Regions from separate parts of the Homo sapiens genome. Here region 1 is linked to region 2. Evidence: fine-mapped expression QTL. Tissue or cell type: whole blood. Region 2 holds a variant in brackets; the other region holds the start of a gene. All regions are shown on one strand. Distances are between the middles of the regions.

Region 1 (7,845 bases), 72 kb after region 2:
CGGATTTTTTATCTCCCCCGCACCGCTCTCCCTTAACAAGTCTAGCTGTGTGAGAGCTCAACTTAATGCAACATGCGGGTTCCAAGGGCCTACAGTATGCTGGACACAGTGCAAGTCCTGGGGCCACAGGACCCTGTTCTGGTCCATCAGGGACTCTGGGTCTGGTGAGGAAGACTGGCAGATAAATAATACCATGCTGTGATCAGCGCTTTCAGGGAGGAATGAACAAAGGACCGTGGGCTCCCAGAGAAGGGATCATCTGACCCAGGCTGGAATGAGTGAAGTCAGAAAAGCCACAGGGAGGAGGGGCCATCTGACCCTGGCCTTGAAGAGTCAGCATCTATCAGCTGGAGGCAAGGAGGGTGGGCATTACAGGGAGGCAAAAGAGCTCCAAAGAAGGCCCAGCCCAAAGGCATGCACAATGGCCCTACCCAGGGGGCCTGGTCCCAAACACCAGGTACTAGGCCTCCGGAGCATAGTTGCCCCCAGGCATGGTCCCTGCTGGCTCCCAAGTCAAGGGATGCTTCCTCATGGCCAATACAGGAAAGGAATTGCCAGCGTCAGCAAAGGACGCTGCCTCTGTCTTCCTCAGCTCCGTCTCCCCTGTTCCCCCACCCAGCCACCATCTACTGGAGCTCTGTTCAGAGGACCCAGCTTTCTGATCTCTGAGCCCACTCCAGCCTCTGCCTCCCTCTGATAAAATCCTCCCATCGCTTTATAGGCCCCATTAACTGTCAGCTCCTCAGAAGCCGCCCCTGGTCTTTTTCTCCCTCTAGTTCCCAGATCTATACATTTCTCTAGATTTAATGCTTGCCATGTAACACACACACACTTCCAGACTGGTTTTCCTGAGCAGACCAGGTCTGAGCCTTTTTCACTCTTGAATCTTCACTCAATAAATCCAGACCCTGCCCCCAGTGTCCTCCACTCCAGCATTTTATTTATTGGCAAAGAGCCAGGCTCTATCCAATGACTAGTAAGCCACTTCAACCATCCTCAGGCAACTTATGAAATTAAAAATCATAACTGGTGAACTATGTTGTCCTTACATAATAGTAATAACTTTTTATTTATTTATTTTAGAAACAGGATCTCACTCTGTCCCTCACACTAGAGTGCAGTGGCACAACCATATCTCGTTGTAACTTCAAATTCCTGGGCTCAAAGGATCCTCCCACACGTACCACCATGCTCAGCTAGTTTTTTAAATTTTTGTAGCGATGGGGTCTCACTATGTTGCCCAAGCTAGTTGCAAACCCCTGGCCTCAAGCGATCATCCTGCCTTGCCTCCCAAAGTACTAGGATTAATGCATGAGCCACTGCACCCAGGCAACTCACTTTAATTTATTGAGCATTCTTGTGCCTAGCACTGGTTTAAGACCTAAACATACAATATTCCATTCAATCCTCACAACTCTATGAAGTAGAGACATTCCTACCTCCATTTTACAAGTGAGGAAATTGAGGCACTGACTTCATCAAGGTTACCAAACAGGTCAGAACCCAGGCAGTCTGATCCAGGAGTCTGTATTCTCAGCTACTATGCTATTATGGACAGGGTGCTACAGGACACAGAAGGGCAATTAACCTTGGGGGTTAGGCGGAGGCAGCGCTGCCTGCGCTGAAAAACATGTAGAAGGTAGCCCAGCAGACAAGAGAAGGAGGAGGTTTCCAAGCAGCGGGGGCTGGTGTGTGCAAAGTCATGAAGATACGAACAGCAAGGGTAGGCATGGCGCATGCTGCAGTGCCGTATTATTGGACCTTAGGGTGCACACAGGAGACTGCTAGGTCAGATCACAGAGAGCTGTGTAAATTGTGCTAGGGGTTCAGCACATAGGCAATAGAAAGCCAGAAAAAGGTTATCAGCAAGGAACTGGCACCGTAAGACTTGTGTTCTAAAAGGATCACAAGAGTTACAGTTTGGAGACTGGGTTGCAAGCTGCCAGGGCTGGACTGTTGGGAATTGACAATACATCAACAGCGTGGTAACAGAAGAGATGGAGCTGGCCCAGGTTTGAAGGATGTTCAGGAAGTTGGCAGTACTAGGTCACTTTTAAGATGTGGGACTTGAAAGAGAGGAGAAAGTGTAAGGAAATTACCAGACTTCCGGCTGGGTTGGGGTAGAGGAAGAATTAATCTGCAAGGAAAAGACCAGTTCAAGTTTGGACCCAGTGAGCTCCATGTGAAGCAGAGCTGTCCCAATGGCCGCTGGATGGGCAAGCGTGGAGCTCCAGGGAAGGGCTGCGCTGAAGATGTGGATCTGGGTATTTAGTTGGTGTAAAGCTGAAGCCGTGGGGGAAAATAAGACCACTGAGATTCAGTGTACAGAGCGAGGGGTTGGGCGACAGAGGAAAACGTGAAGCGGGACTTTGACCGACTGTCAGAGCGGTACGAAGAAAACCAGGAGACATTGACTAACCCAAAAATGCGGGGTGAGGGAACGTGTCATTAGAAATGAGTGTCAATGGTACTATGCACCTCTAAGAACTCAAGACTTCAAAGGGCCCTTTTAATACCAATTAGGAAGTTATTCACGGCCGTTTCGAAAGGAAGTTGGGGAGACACGGGATGACACTGAGACGCAGAGCTACCGGAATGCGTAGATGTTTTCCTCTCACCCCAGATTCCGACCCCTCCCCATACCTGCCCCTGCTCATAACACCCAGACACCTCACCCTCTCCTCTCCCCTCAGTTAAGACGGAGGCTTTGGAAGGAGATCCCGAACGTCCTCCCCGGGCTCCCCAGGATAGGCGGGGTCGCCAAGAGTCATTGCTGGAGACCCCAACCCGCGCGGGGCGGCGCGAGGCCAGACAGAGGAAGGGGGCGGAACCTGAGACGCAGCGGGTGTGGGAAGGGTCGGACGGAACCCAGCACGGACAGCGGGCGGCGAAGCGGGTTCGACCGGCGGAAGACGGCCCTCGCACGCCACCCGCTCCCAGCGACCGCTCCGGGACCCACCTGCTCCATGTCAGCCACGGCCCCGGCTCTTCCCGCCCCAACCGCAGTCCGGCTCCGCGGCCTCAGTAGCGCCTCAGAGCGGAAGAAGATCTTCCGGCAGCGCCACTTCCGCCGCTGAGTCCGCCCCCGAGAGCGAAGCGGGACTTGCGTTCGCCTGCGGCCCCGCCCCTTCGCCCCGCCTCCAGCCCCGGCCCTGCGCAGAAGCGGACTCAAAGGCCGGAGTCTAAGGGCCTACCTAAGGGTAGGGGAGTGGGAAGAAGACCAGGGCCGTCGTTATTAGGCCACACAGGCCTGGCACTGAGGGAAAAAGGGGAATTTCCCGAGGGGAGTCCTGTGGGGATGGGGAAATCTTTGGAGGAATCCAGTTATTCGAGAAGGACTTCCCCACCCCACCTGCCTCCTTCAGCCATCCCAAGCAGCAGCTAGAACTTCTGTAGTTCTTCCTCTGAGTGCCCCGAGCCTGCTGTCTGCCAGAAAGACTCCTAGACTAGAGGATTGGACAGTAGGGTCAAAACCCTAACCCTTGGTTGACCACCGGCCTTCCCTATCAGGACGCCCCATTACCTCCCTTTTCCTCCTGCTTCCCCTGAAAGAGGAGTCTCAGCAGTTATTTACAAAGATTTATTACAGCACGGGAGGGGTTCAGGCCTGGAGTCAGGGAAGAAGGGGAAAGGGGCAGAGCAGCTGGGGGACAAGGAAAACCTGGCGCCCCCCGCTGTGTGCCCCACCGGGGACATAAACTAGGCGGCATTCCTGGCATCAAAGCACAAAACGCAACAAAGAGGTCTCTGCCAGTCCATCTTCCAGGCACCCAGGAGGAGCAAGGGTGATTAAGGGAAGATTCCCAAAATGTTGAGGCTATGGAGAAAAACGCCTTAGTCCTGGACCCTGGTAGAAGCCGGTGAGAGAAGTGGTGACTTGGAATCCTCCATAGGAAAGTGGGTAGAAAAGGATCTAAGGGTACCTCAAGGTTCTCAGGACCTCCTTTCCCCAGATCTTAGGGTCCTGCCCTGTGGGTCTCCTGTGTCCAGGGGAGAGGATCTGGGGAGTAGAATTGTGAAGGGCAAATCCCTGTTCCCGGTTTTCTGGATTTTCCAATGTGGGCTGTCTCACATCCCACCTCCCGCTGGGTGAATGGAGGAATGACTGGCAGGGGTGGGCATCAGGCAGCAAGTGCCCAGGTTCTCTGGGTATCAGCCAAAGGTGGGCAAACAAGCAAACACAGACCAGCCTTAGTCTTCTAGAAGTCAGAAGCCGCAGCCCTAGCAGGCGAGGGGAAGAGCACAAAACAGGGTGAGGATAGAGTGGGTTTCTGGGGAACAGCGATGTCCCCTCCACTTCCTCCTGGGAGATGCAGGCTGGGTGCCTATGTGCCAGGCTCAGAGGGGGAAGGGCGCTGAGGTTCCTCCCCAGGCTCTGAAAGGCAAGCAGAGAGGGACTCAGGGCCTGGCCCCACCCACCAAGATCCCAGCCCCTCCTCCCCATTTCACACTCCCAAGCCTTACCACTTAGTGCTGGGTCTTCCACTTGGTCCTCAGAGCCTCCATCTCTCTCGGACTCATCCAGAGGGGGTGGGCGCTCCCAGGGCCCTTCCAGACCCTGGCCACAGGTTGTCTTTTGCCCAGCTGGGGATGGGAAAGAAGAGATAAGAACACAGGCTCTGCGTATCCATCCGGCTGTCCTGGAGTGTGAGCTAAGTGTCTGATGGCTGAGGTTAAGCTTTCCAGGGGCATCATGGAAGCATGGAGAGAGAACTGGGCTAGAACAGCTCTCCCAGCAACTAGCCATATGGCTTACGTAAGTCAGTTAGTACCTTTCTGAAGGAAATAGAAAGGGGGAAATTGTGTAGATTACCTTAAACAAGATGTAATAGTGAATACCCTGCCCAGCCCAGCGCCAGCACCCAGGAGCCACTAGGAGTCGTGGTGGTTTATATTGCTCCATCATAGGACTATCATTTGACCCGGTGCCCTTCTGCATTTTTTGTTTGTTTGTTTTTTTTTGTTGTTTTGTTTTGGTTTTTTGTTTTTGTTTTTGAGATGGAGTCTCACTCTGTTGCCCAGGCTGGAGTGCAGTGGTGCGATCTCAGCTCACTGCAACTTCCACCTCCCAGGTTCAGGGGATTCTTCTGCCTCAGCCTCCCAAGCAGCTGGGATTACAGGTGTGTGCCACTGTGCCTGGCTAATTTTTGTATTTTTATTACAGATGGGGTTTCACCATGTTGGCTGGACTGGTCTTGAACTCCAGACCTCAAGTGATCCGCTAGCCTTGGCATCCCAAAGTGCTGGAATTACAGGCATGAGCCACCGCACCCAGCCACCTGCTGCTTTTCCTGAGGGAACAGTCTCCTCTCACCCCTCTTCCACTGTTTTGGAGGGGTCTCAGTGAGGACTGATTCAGGTCTTCCAGCTGTCTCTTGCCCACAAAGGGACTGAAGCCCAGCAACAGCTTTTGCCCCCATGGCCAATCTCTTCACTGCCAGATATGCAGGCAGGAGGCCCAAGGCCTTTTGTTTGTGTGGAAGAGCTGACAGCTTCTAGTAGGGGTGGTTGACTCTTCAGTATTCCCATAAATAATGAGACTAAAAAGGTTAATGGGCCGGGCTGGTTCTTGAATTTTAAATTCTACATCTAAACACTAGAGGGCACCCTCCCACTCCATCCTAGGAAGGAAAAAGAGGAGAAACAGACAACAGTCCTGGAGAGGGCAAGTAAATGAGGCAGCCCTCTGCACCCCAGCAGAGACCACATCCTAGGTTCAAAAATGTAGGTGAAATGCAGGTGACAGGGGTGTTGGACTCTCCTGGTCCTCCATCCCTGAATGTCCTCACGCCCCCTTACTGCCATAGGTGGGAAGTCCTCTTTTGGCTCTAGCCTCAAACCCCAAACGGCCTTGGCCTTAATTCTCAGGGAAGAGAGGAATTATTAGGGAAAACCTGATTGGGAGAGGGACTGAGCCAAGGATGGAGGAAACCCATGTCTCAGGTAGGGCTGAGTTCGGGGCACCCCATGGAGCGAGAAGACAGGGAGGCCCCTGTGGTGTCACTACAGTTTGCGTGTATGAGACACTGAACTAGAAGGGGACGTCCTCGTATACTCAAGGAGGACCCACAGCTAATCCACATGTCACAGGCCCCTCAGCTTACCAGACTGCCTGATGACCTTCAGGACTTCAGCCTGGCTGTCCTCTTCTTCTTCCTCTTCTTCATCATCCTCCTCTTCCTCCTCATCTTCCTCTCTTGGATAACCCAGCTCCCGAAGCTCCCCCAGCTCATCCTCCTCCTCTGAGGCCTGGTTCTCATTCAAATTGCTGATAGACTGCAGGTGAGACTCAGCAATGCGCTGCACAGCTGGCACAGAGGAGACCGAGGAAAGCAAGGGTCAGCTAGACACAGCCCATGGATCTGGAGATAGCCTGTGGCCTAGCCCCCAGCCTCCTTCCCGTAGGCCTGGGGCAGAGAATACCCCCTCAGGGGCCCAAGTTCAAAGGCCAAAGTTGACAGGTCAGCCTGATGGGTGTCAGACCAGGGCAGAGGCAGCCAGGGGTAGATTTGATCATGTTTGGCTCTTAAGCTGTCCTAAGATGCTAGCCCCCAGGCAGCTCCCCCACACCATAGGGCACTAGGCTGGGCAAGACCAGGCGGGCACAGCAGCAGCTTAACATTCCCTGGCTGGAGAGCTTGATTTTCCAAGTACCCAGTACGGGAGACAGTGTCTCCCAGCTTCAAGCCCAGGCAGAAGGCACAGGGCGTAGGAACCAGGGCCTGGGGATTTGCCACTTTCCATTTCTTGGGGGTGCCCAGCCTGCTGAGGGCTCACTGCTTACCCTGATCCTACCTCCCATGCGATGCATAGTCCCCACTCCCTGGCACTGCCCAGTCATAGATGCCAATCCACATACTCCTGCCCCGGGCTCCAAGGGACAGAACAATTCCGAGGCTGAGGACATAATAGTCTGCAGCCAGTGCAGTCTGTGCCGGGGGATGCGGCATGCTCAGATGCGGCCCCCACAATCTTGACCCACATCCCCAGGTTCCCAGCTCCCTCTGCGGTGACCTAGAAAGCAACCCCCCCAGCCTCCAAAGACCTGCTCAGATAGGGCTGGGAAGGGAACAGTGTGGGCAGCTGGAGACAAGTTTCCAAAAGATGGAAAGGAGCAAGGGGTTAGAGAAAGGGGCCAAGGCCAGGGGTTCTGGGGGATGGCAGAGGTTGAGGGGCCACTGAGGAGAGGCTGCAGGAGCTGGCAGGATCTTAGAACATATGCGACACAAAGTTCACAGGCCACAGACAAGATGCTGAGGAGGGGCTGGGGGTGGGGAATGGGGAGTTGCTGCAGTTCCTTCTTGGTCTGCCAGTGGCCCCTCCCCTCAGAAGGCCCAGAGGGGTAGGGCCAGGCTGGAAACCTCCGGCACAGTGAGCAGGGTGCTATGCTCCTGCCAACTCGGGGACAGGCACAGAGGGTGCTTTGTATGTGCCCGCTGCCCCACCCAGCCCCCAGCTCCCAGCCCAGTACCTCCTGCTGGCTCTGGGCAAGCTATCCAGGCAATAAAAGCACAATAAATCACCCTACCCTGACCTTGGGGACGCGGCAGAGCTTCATCTTGAGCCAAGTGTGAGAGCTCCAGCCTTGGAGCACAACCCCTCAAGCTAAGACTTAGTGCTGTGCCCCTCTCTCTAGGGCCCTCGATTCTTCCCTGACAAGCCCCAACCCTGCCGGGCACCTTCCCTTGCCCACAAAAGGACTGAAGCCTACAAAACAGTGCCCTCCTGGTAGAGAAGGATCCATGAGGGCTGTGGGGGGAGGTAAGGCAGGAGAGCAGGTGGCAGCCCAGGCAGCTTCCTTCTCCCCCAGCGGGGGAGGAGAGTTCACTTCGTGAGCCACAGTGA
Region 2 (7,845 bases):
GGTGGGCTGGGCCAGGCTGCATGCGCAGAGGGACAGGAACTGCAGCTGGCCTCGGGGGCAGTGAGTGGGTACCTCGGGCACAGGGCTTGCTGCACTTCTCACACCGCTGTGTTCCATCCTCTGCTGTCACCTCTTGGTTGTGCAGGGGGCAGACGAGGGTGCAGGATCCCACGTCCGTAGAAAGGTAGTTGTCTAAGGAGATCAGGAACATGTAGCCACATACCCTGGCCCTTCGTGCACCACCATGAGCAGCATTACCGTGCCCAGGCACAAGAAGAATAATATCAACCAATACTTAAATGCCCTACCACGCATCAGCACCTGACATCCATTTACCCCTCACAACAACCAGACGGGATCAGCACTGTGAGATTCCCATTTTGCAAAAAGGGAGACCAAAGCAGAGAGTTCTGTAAATTATTCAAGGTCATTGTGCTAGTGAGTGGAGGAGCGAGGATTTGAACCCAAATGGTCTGGCTCTACATTTTGTCCTCTCCCTAACACAGTCAGCCAGGATCTGAAGGCCCACTCCTGTTCCTGTGAGAGGAGGAAAGAGGTTCCCCAGGTCTGAGCCCAGTCCATAAACGCCCATCAGTAAATAGGTGATCTGTTAAATAAAACTGAGCTAGGCCAGGCACGATGGCTCATGCCTGTAATCCCAGCACTTTGGGAGACCAAGGCGGGTGGATCACTTGAGGTCAGGAGTTCGAGACCAGCTTGGCCAACATAGTGAAACTCCGTCTCTACTAAAAATACAAAAATTACCCAGCCATGGTGGTGCATGCCTGTAGTTCCACCTACTCAAGAGTCTGAGGCACAAGAATTGCTTGAATGCGGAAGGCAGAGGTTGCAGTGAGCCAAAATTGCACCACTGCACTCCAGCCTGGGCAATGGAGCGAGACTCTGCCAAAAAAAAAAAAGTCCGGGTGCAGTGGCTCACGCCTGTAATCCCAGCACTTTCAGAGGCCGAGGCAGGTGGATCGCCTGAAGTCAGGAGTTCGAGACCAGTCTGGCCAACGTGGTGAAACCCTGTCTCTACTAAAAATACAAAATTTAGCGAGGCATGGTGGTGGGCGCCTGTAATCCCAGCTACTCAGGAGGCTGAGACACGAGAATAGCACGAACCTGGGAGGCGGAGGTTGCAGTGAGCCGAGATCGCGCCACTGCGATAGAGCTAACTAAATTCGGTCTCAAAAACAAAACGAAAGGTAAAACTGACCTCACCAGGCTATAGAATAAAAGCTAACATTTAGGAGCACTTAGTACATACCAGGCACCGTTCTAAGAGCTTTACAAATATTAACTCTTTCAAATGTTATAACCATCTTATGCAGTTGGGACTATTCTTGCCCCCATTTTACTGATGAGGAAACTGAGGCACAGCAAGAGGGTCACGTGCCTACTAATTGATAGAGCTGGGTTTCAAACCCAGGCAGTCTGGCTCCCAAGTCTGGGCTCTTAGCTGCCTCTCCTTACTGCCACCTGCTCCACAGCTGTTGAAAGAACAAGGCAGCTCGGCAGGAACTGTCATGACCAGCTCTCAAAGCAAGATGCAGACAGTGCTCCCCATATGCTCCCATTTACAGAAACAAACCTCCCCACCAAAATGAGAAAACTGTGTTTCTCCCTGGCACTCACAGGGACAGGCAGTCACACAGCTGGCGCCGAATGTATACCGGCCCTCGGGATTGGGCATGGACTCAAACGTGTCTGTGTTGTAGGTGACCAGGGCTGGGCAGTGCAGCTCACAGATGCCACTGTGGTTGAAGTGGAGGCAGGCCTGGGGGGACAGGTGGCTGGCTTTCACTGTGCTGTTTTGCCCTGGTGTGCCAGGGGCAATAGGGCAGTACCAGGCAGGGTGCCCACCCCTTGCATCCTGGGGGGTAGAGCACATTGGGCACAAAGCAGAGGCACATACCAGGCAGTCAGAGTGCTTGGGGCCCGTGCAGCCGGCAGCACACTGCTCATGGCAGCAGTCAGTGGGCAGTGGCCCCTTGCAGCGGGCACAGCCACCGGCACAGACAGTGCGCGTCACTGTTGGGCAAAGGGCAGGATGAGGGCTGAGTGGCGCCCTGGGCACCAGACCCTCATCAGCATCACCTTCTAGGGAGACTACCTGGCCCAGGGGAGACATCCCAAGCCTGTTATCCCACCCCTCCCATGTCACCTGTATGACACCTGCATTCCACCCGGCCCCAGCCCTCCCCTTCCCTGACTCCAGGCCTCCCTGAGACTCACGGCTCTGACAATCCTCAGAACTCTCTCCCCAGCAGCGGGAGCCCTTACACATCGGAGAACAGGGGTGGCCTGAGGACAGAACCAGAGACAGGCAGTGAGAGAGATGTCTAACAGCGAGAGGACGGGTTAGTAACAGAGAGAGGCACAAACAGCAGCAGAGGCCACGAGGCCAACTGCACAGCAAGGGAGGGACCCAGACAGGCTGAGAGGCCCCCAAACCAGAGGCACAACCTATAAGCAGAGGGAGACAAGACAGAGAACCCCAGAGATGAAGAGGCACAGGGAGATGGCAGGAGGGACAGAGAGGGAGGAAATGGGTGGTGTAGGCGGCTGGGGCAGTGGCGGGCAGGCACTGGGTTGTAAGTTGGGAGTTTGCGGCTGGGGTCAGGCTGTCTGAGAGAAGAGGCAGCAGGGAGGGGCATGGCTTACAGGCCCGAGAGCGGTTGGTGTCTATCAGTGTGAGAGCCAGCTGGTTGTTCTTGTGGAAGATGTCCTTCCACAAAATCGTGTCCTGGTAGCAGAGCTGGGGGTTCCGCTGGATCAAGACCCCTCCTTTCAAGATCTCTGTGGGGTGAGCAATGATCAGAGGACCCTTTCCCCTTCTGTCACCTTCTGCTTCCCTTGGGGCCCTCCTGCCTTCTAAAAGAGGAGCAGGCCTTTTAAACAACCCCCAGATTCCCCAGGGAGGAGAGAAAGCTATCTTTACCGTCTTTGAGTCCCACCACCACCACACCCGCAACAAGAACAAAGCGAGAGCCAGGGAGGAGTGAGTTGTCCATGCTAGGTCCAGATGCTCATGTGGACCGCAGCTCTCTCCTTCCTTCTCACCTCTACTCTGGGCATGCTGCTTGGTGGTTAAGAGACTGTGGAGTCTGAAACTCAGCCCCATCACTCACTAGCTGTGTAACTTTTGGCCCTTATATCTGCAAGCCTCAGTTTTCTCATATGTAGAATGAGAATAACACTGATTTTTTCCTGACAGGACTGCAGCGTGACTGAAATGGGCCATGCGGGCAAAGCACCTGGCACCCAGACTCTGGGGCAGAGTCGGCTCCAGGGCCAGCAAATAGTTACATAGGTTGTTCACTGTACACTTCACTCAGCCAAGTGGGGGCAAAAACCCAGCCTGCATTCTCACGATTGAATTATATGTGCTGACGCAAGCTACAACTTCCCAGGAAGAAGGGGAATCTTTTTCCAATCTTCTGAGGGCGTCTTCCCGGGCTCTGCCTGCGTCTGCCCAGAAGGGACACCATTTCTAATGCACACAAAGCCTCCCCCTGGTTAGCAGTGGCCCTGGTCAGCTCTGAATAACCAAGAGAAGGTTTCAATGACGGTGAAGGCCACCTGTGAGGCTTCGAAGCTGCAGCTCCCGCAGGCCTCCTGGGGAGGCCCCTGTGACAGGGGTGGTATTGTTCAGCGGGTCTCCATTGTCTAGCACGGCCAGGGCATAGTTGTCCTCAAAGAGCTGGGTGCCTCGCACAATCCGCAGCCTCTGCAGTGGGACCTGCCTCACTTGGTTGTGAGCGATGAGCACGTAGCCCTGCACCTCCTGGATATCCTGGGAGGGGGAAGCAGAGTGGGGCTGAAATAGGAACACTGCCACCCCCCAGGGCCTCCCTGGGGTTCCCCAGTACTTGGAGATCTTGGGCAAGGCCCCCAGCCACTGAGCAGTCCTGTTCCCGCTTAAATAAAACGATAAAATAGAGATAAAGATCACGCCCTACCTTGCCTCACCAGATTCTTATATGATCAAGAAAGATAATGGTGGGGGGGCATTTCATAAACTCCGAACAGGTGCCCTGCCCTCTCTGTATCTCAGTTTCTTCATCAGTGAAAGCAAAGGCCTGGATGGGATGGCGTCTGCAAATTTTTTTTTTTTGAGACGGAGTTTCACTCTTGTTGCCCAGGCTGGAGTACAATGGCACGATCTAGGCTCACCACAACCTCCGTCTCCCAGGTTCAAGTGATTCTCCTGCCTCAGCCTTCCCAAGTAGCTGGGATTATAGGCATGTGCCACCATGCCTGGCTAATTTTGTATTTTCAGTAGAGACGGGGTTTCTCCATGTTGGTCAGGCTGGTCTCGAACTCCCGACCTCAAGTGATCTGTCCGCCTCGGCCTCCCAAAGTGCTGGGATTACAGGCATGAGCCATCGCACCCGGCCGGCGTCTGCAATTTGACAAACCAAGCATGTGGCCCCATTCCAGGGTCTGTGGACACGATCCAGCAGGTTGGTTTCCACTCTCCCTCCTGTTCATAACCTTTTCACAGACATTTCTCTTCTGAGCTTCACAACTGCTCCCAATATACAGATAGGGAAACTGAGACCCAGTGAAGCTAAGGGGGTGTAGGCCACATTCATAGGGCTCGTCAGTGGCAGAAGTGGGCCTGTAATCCACCTTTCTCACCAGCCCTTTCTTCTGCT[G/A]TAAGTGGGAGAGGGATAGTGGCTGGAGCAGGTGGACAGGGGACATGATCATGCTGGCAAGAGAGCACAAGATTTAGCGGAAACACAGACGCATCCCATCCAGACATGACCTCGGCCAGCCACGTTATAGAGAGAGTCAACTGATTCTGCAGTAAAATGAATGGGGGTTAGATGTTAGAAAGGACTTCCTGGTTGAGAAACCACAACAAGAGAGGAAACAGAAGGGCAGGGCACCTTCTTCTGCCACCCACCTGTAAACAGAGGGCTCAGCCCAGCTGGAGGCAGGGCCTGGCTGGGTTGCCCACGGGCCTCACCTGCAGGAAGGACAGGCTGGCATTGGTGGGCAGGTAGGTGAGTTCCAGGTTTCCCTGCACCACCTGGCAGCCCTGGTAGAGGTGGCGGAGCATGTCCAGGTGGGTCTCGGGACTGGCAGGGAGCCGCAGCTTCATGTCTGTGCCGGTGCACACTGGCAGGAGAGAGCAGATGGGTCAGAGGACACTGGCGGGGGACCTTCTCAGACCTGGCCACCCCATCCAAACTCACTCCAAGTCATGCCACCTCAGACAGGGAGAAGCCTGACTGAAGGACCCCTCCGCCCATGTCCCTTGCACACTGCAGGTTTAACAGCAGGAGAAAGCTTGCGTGCTTGGGAAGTAGAGGGATTTCAGGGGAAAGGCTTCTTCTGACTAGGCCCACCCTGTGCATTCAGAGGCTGCCCCAGCGTGCCAGCCCTGGGGAGCTCGCCCGCCAGTACAGGGTGTTGGCTGGCAAAGAAAGGCTTCCTTTGTCCCAAAGGCACAACTCAGGGCAAAGGGGTAAAAATCCCCCAAGAGAGGCGATGACGAATCATGAATCTTCTGGATACCCCCTGCCCCTCTCCCAAGCAAACAAACTCGGTGCATTCTCCCTATGCCATTCCAGCACACCCACATGCCAACCTCTTGGCAAGGGATCCACACCCCCGTAATGCCACCCAGAGAGTGGGGAAGGAGGGTCAGCTGGAGTTGCAGCTGAGGCATGGGACAACCGGGGCTCTGGTCATTGCAGAGACCTCTGGGAGTCCCCCATGAAGAGAAAAGGAGCGTCAGATTCCAGTTGTGGGCATCTGGACCCAGGCTGCAGATCCCAGGCCAGGGTGAAGCATGCGCCAAAGGTTCCTGCGCTGGCACCCTCACCCTGGCCACCTCCTCAGGGCAAGACTCCAGAACCAGCTGGCAGAATGTGTGCCACGAAACTGCTGCCACAAAGGCACTACGTCAGCCCTGCATACCTGCCCAGCGCGAGCCATCAGCCATGGGGCATAGGGCTGAACTGCCACACCTGGCCCACTTGGACCCCAGCCTGGTATCCCTGAGACCAGAAATGCCCACTAAGGTCAGGAATACTAGAGGAGGTAAAGCACCCCTGGTGAGGGGCGCCGGGGTAGCAGCTCACACCAGGCCTGCCAGTGAGGGGAGATTAAAGTGCCCAGTTGAACTTGTTTTTCTGCTCTGGTGAGATGAATCACCTGGCGTGTCTTGCCCAGGAGATCGGAAGGGTGGGGGCAGAGGGCACCCTCAGGCCCACAGGTGCCTGAGCTGCCCAGAATTCCTGCCGGTCACTGCTCCGCCTCCCACAGGCTACATGCAGATTCAGGGACAGCACAAGGGCTGGCTTGGGGTCTGACACCAGAGGCACTGCTCTCCCAGCAAGTTGGAGCCTAAGGTCAAATCCTAGGGGGTAATACGAGGTACCCCCTGCCTTCAGATTGCTGGGAGAGGCTGGTAGGGCAAGCCCCCAGGTTCCCTGCCTGGGCCAGTGGCCAGTGGCCACAAACTGGTGGTCTCCTAGTGATACTCAGAATGGCCTCTATTCCCACCTCTCTAGGCAGATAAGGACAAAGAGGGAGGAACAGGAGGGAGGAACAGAAATAGAACTCAAGGGTCCATGTCCCTGAGGGAGGCCTCCCCACTCCATGCCTCACCCACTTGCACCCCCTCCTCTTCCCCACACTTCCTCCCCCAACAGACTCCCAAGAGAAACAGGAGCTGGGGGTGGCAGGCCAGGCCCAAAATAACGCCCTGCTGCCAGGACCTCCCCCGGCCTCAGCCCTTCAGCTGCTTTATAGACACAGCTGTCTGCAGGCCCAGACCCCAGGCCCTGGCCCAAGCCCAGGGTCTCCACAGGGCTGGGGCAGGGTCCGACTCCACCCCCTGTAGCCCTTTTCAAGGGATACCAGCTGTGGCCGCCAGGCAATAGGAAAACAACAACAATGGGGAGTGGGGGCCGCCACAGTAACTGAGCTGAGCACCTACTGTGTGCCTGGCAGGCACTCTCGGTGGATCTGCATAACATGCTCCAGAGACTGGGGCTGCAACCTCCATCTTGCAAAGAAGACAACTGAGGCTGGCAGGGGTTAGCTCTCGCCTCATAAAGCTTGTGAGCAACAGGCAGGACTGGAACTCAGGCTGGCCTGCCTTCAGATCCCACATTCCTTCCACTAGGCCTAACTGCACACACACAAATCCACCCCACACCCCACGCCAACATAAATACACACTAATTCTCCCAATGCCACCGATAAACACCACAGGCTCTACGGAGGGCAGGGTGGCTGGGCTGGGTTGGGCTGGAGGGTCAGAACGGGTGGTAGCCCCACCCCACTAGTGAGTTTGTTTACCTGATTTGTGGCCAATTTGAGTCTGATTAAGAATCTTAAAGTGTTTGCAGACAGGTGGTAAAATTGGTACCCTGAGAACGGTTCCCAGGGAACTGGAGGCTTGCTGGCTAACACCCCCACCAGCCTACATGAAGTCAAGAAGGTCTTCCTGACACCTCCCTCCCACTCTCCCATCTCCTTACCATTGTCCCCATATCTGCCCTGTCCCATTGGTTTTCTTTTTTTGAGATGGAGTCTCGCCCTGTCGCCAGGCTGGAGTGCAGTGGCGCAATCTCGGCTCACTGCAACCTCTGCCTCCCGGGTTCAAGCAATTCTCCTGCCTCAGCCTCCTCAGTAGCTGGGATTACGGGTGCCTGACACCACACCTGGCTAATTTTTGTATTTTTAGTTGAGGCGGGTTTCACCATGTTGGCCAGGCTGGTCCTGAACTGCTGACCTTGTGATCCGCCCGTCTCGGCCTCCCAAAGTGCTGGGATTACAGGTGTGAGCCACGGCACCTGGTCCCCGTTGATTTCCTGGGGG

Evidence for each region. PIP is the estimated chance that this variant, and not a neighbour inherited with it, causes the effect.
Region 1: STARD3 starts here. The variant in region 2 is fine-mapped to the expression of STARD3 in whole blood (TOPMed, PIP above 0.99).

Annotation. Positions count from the first base shown.
Region 1 is chr17:39,632,346-39,640,190 of GRCh38, reverse strand. It overlaps STARD3 (StAR related lipid transfer domain containing 3), which reads right to left and starts at 3,047. Exons shown (of 15, transcript NM_006804.4): 1 at 2,960-3,047. It overlaps PPP1R1B (protein phosphatase 1 regulatory inhibitor subunit 1B), which reads right to left. Exons shown (of 7, transcript NM_032192.4): 5 at 6,105-6,308; 6 at 4,465-4,584; 7 at 3,567-4,375. The coding sequence ends at 4,326. LOC124903998 (a long non-coding RNA gene) reads left to right here and starts at 2,901. Exons shown (of 2, transcript XR_007065749.1): 1 at 2,901-3,200; 2 at 5,165-5,553. RefSeq lists enhancers at 2,376-2,495, 4,279-4,902, 6,990-7,845 and a silencer at 3,036-3,105.
Region 2 is chr17:39,704,275-39,712,119 of GRCh38, reverse strand. ERBB2 (erb-b2 receptor tyrosine kinase 2) reads right to left here. Exons shown (of 27, transcript NM_004448.4): 2 at 4,979-5,130; 3 at 3,586-3,799; 4 at 2,668-2,802; 5 at 2,239-2,307; 6 at 1,919-2,034; 7 at 1,639-1,780; 8 at 73-192. Among named protein-coding and RNA genes, the nearest start is that of ERBB2, 8.1 kb to the right of the region's middle. RefSeq lists an enhancer at 6,454-7,326. The variant G/A (reference allele first, on the strand shown) is at 4,665.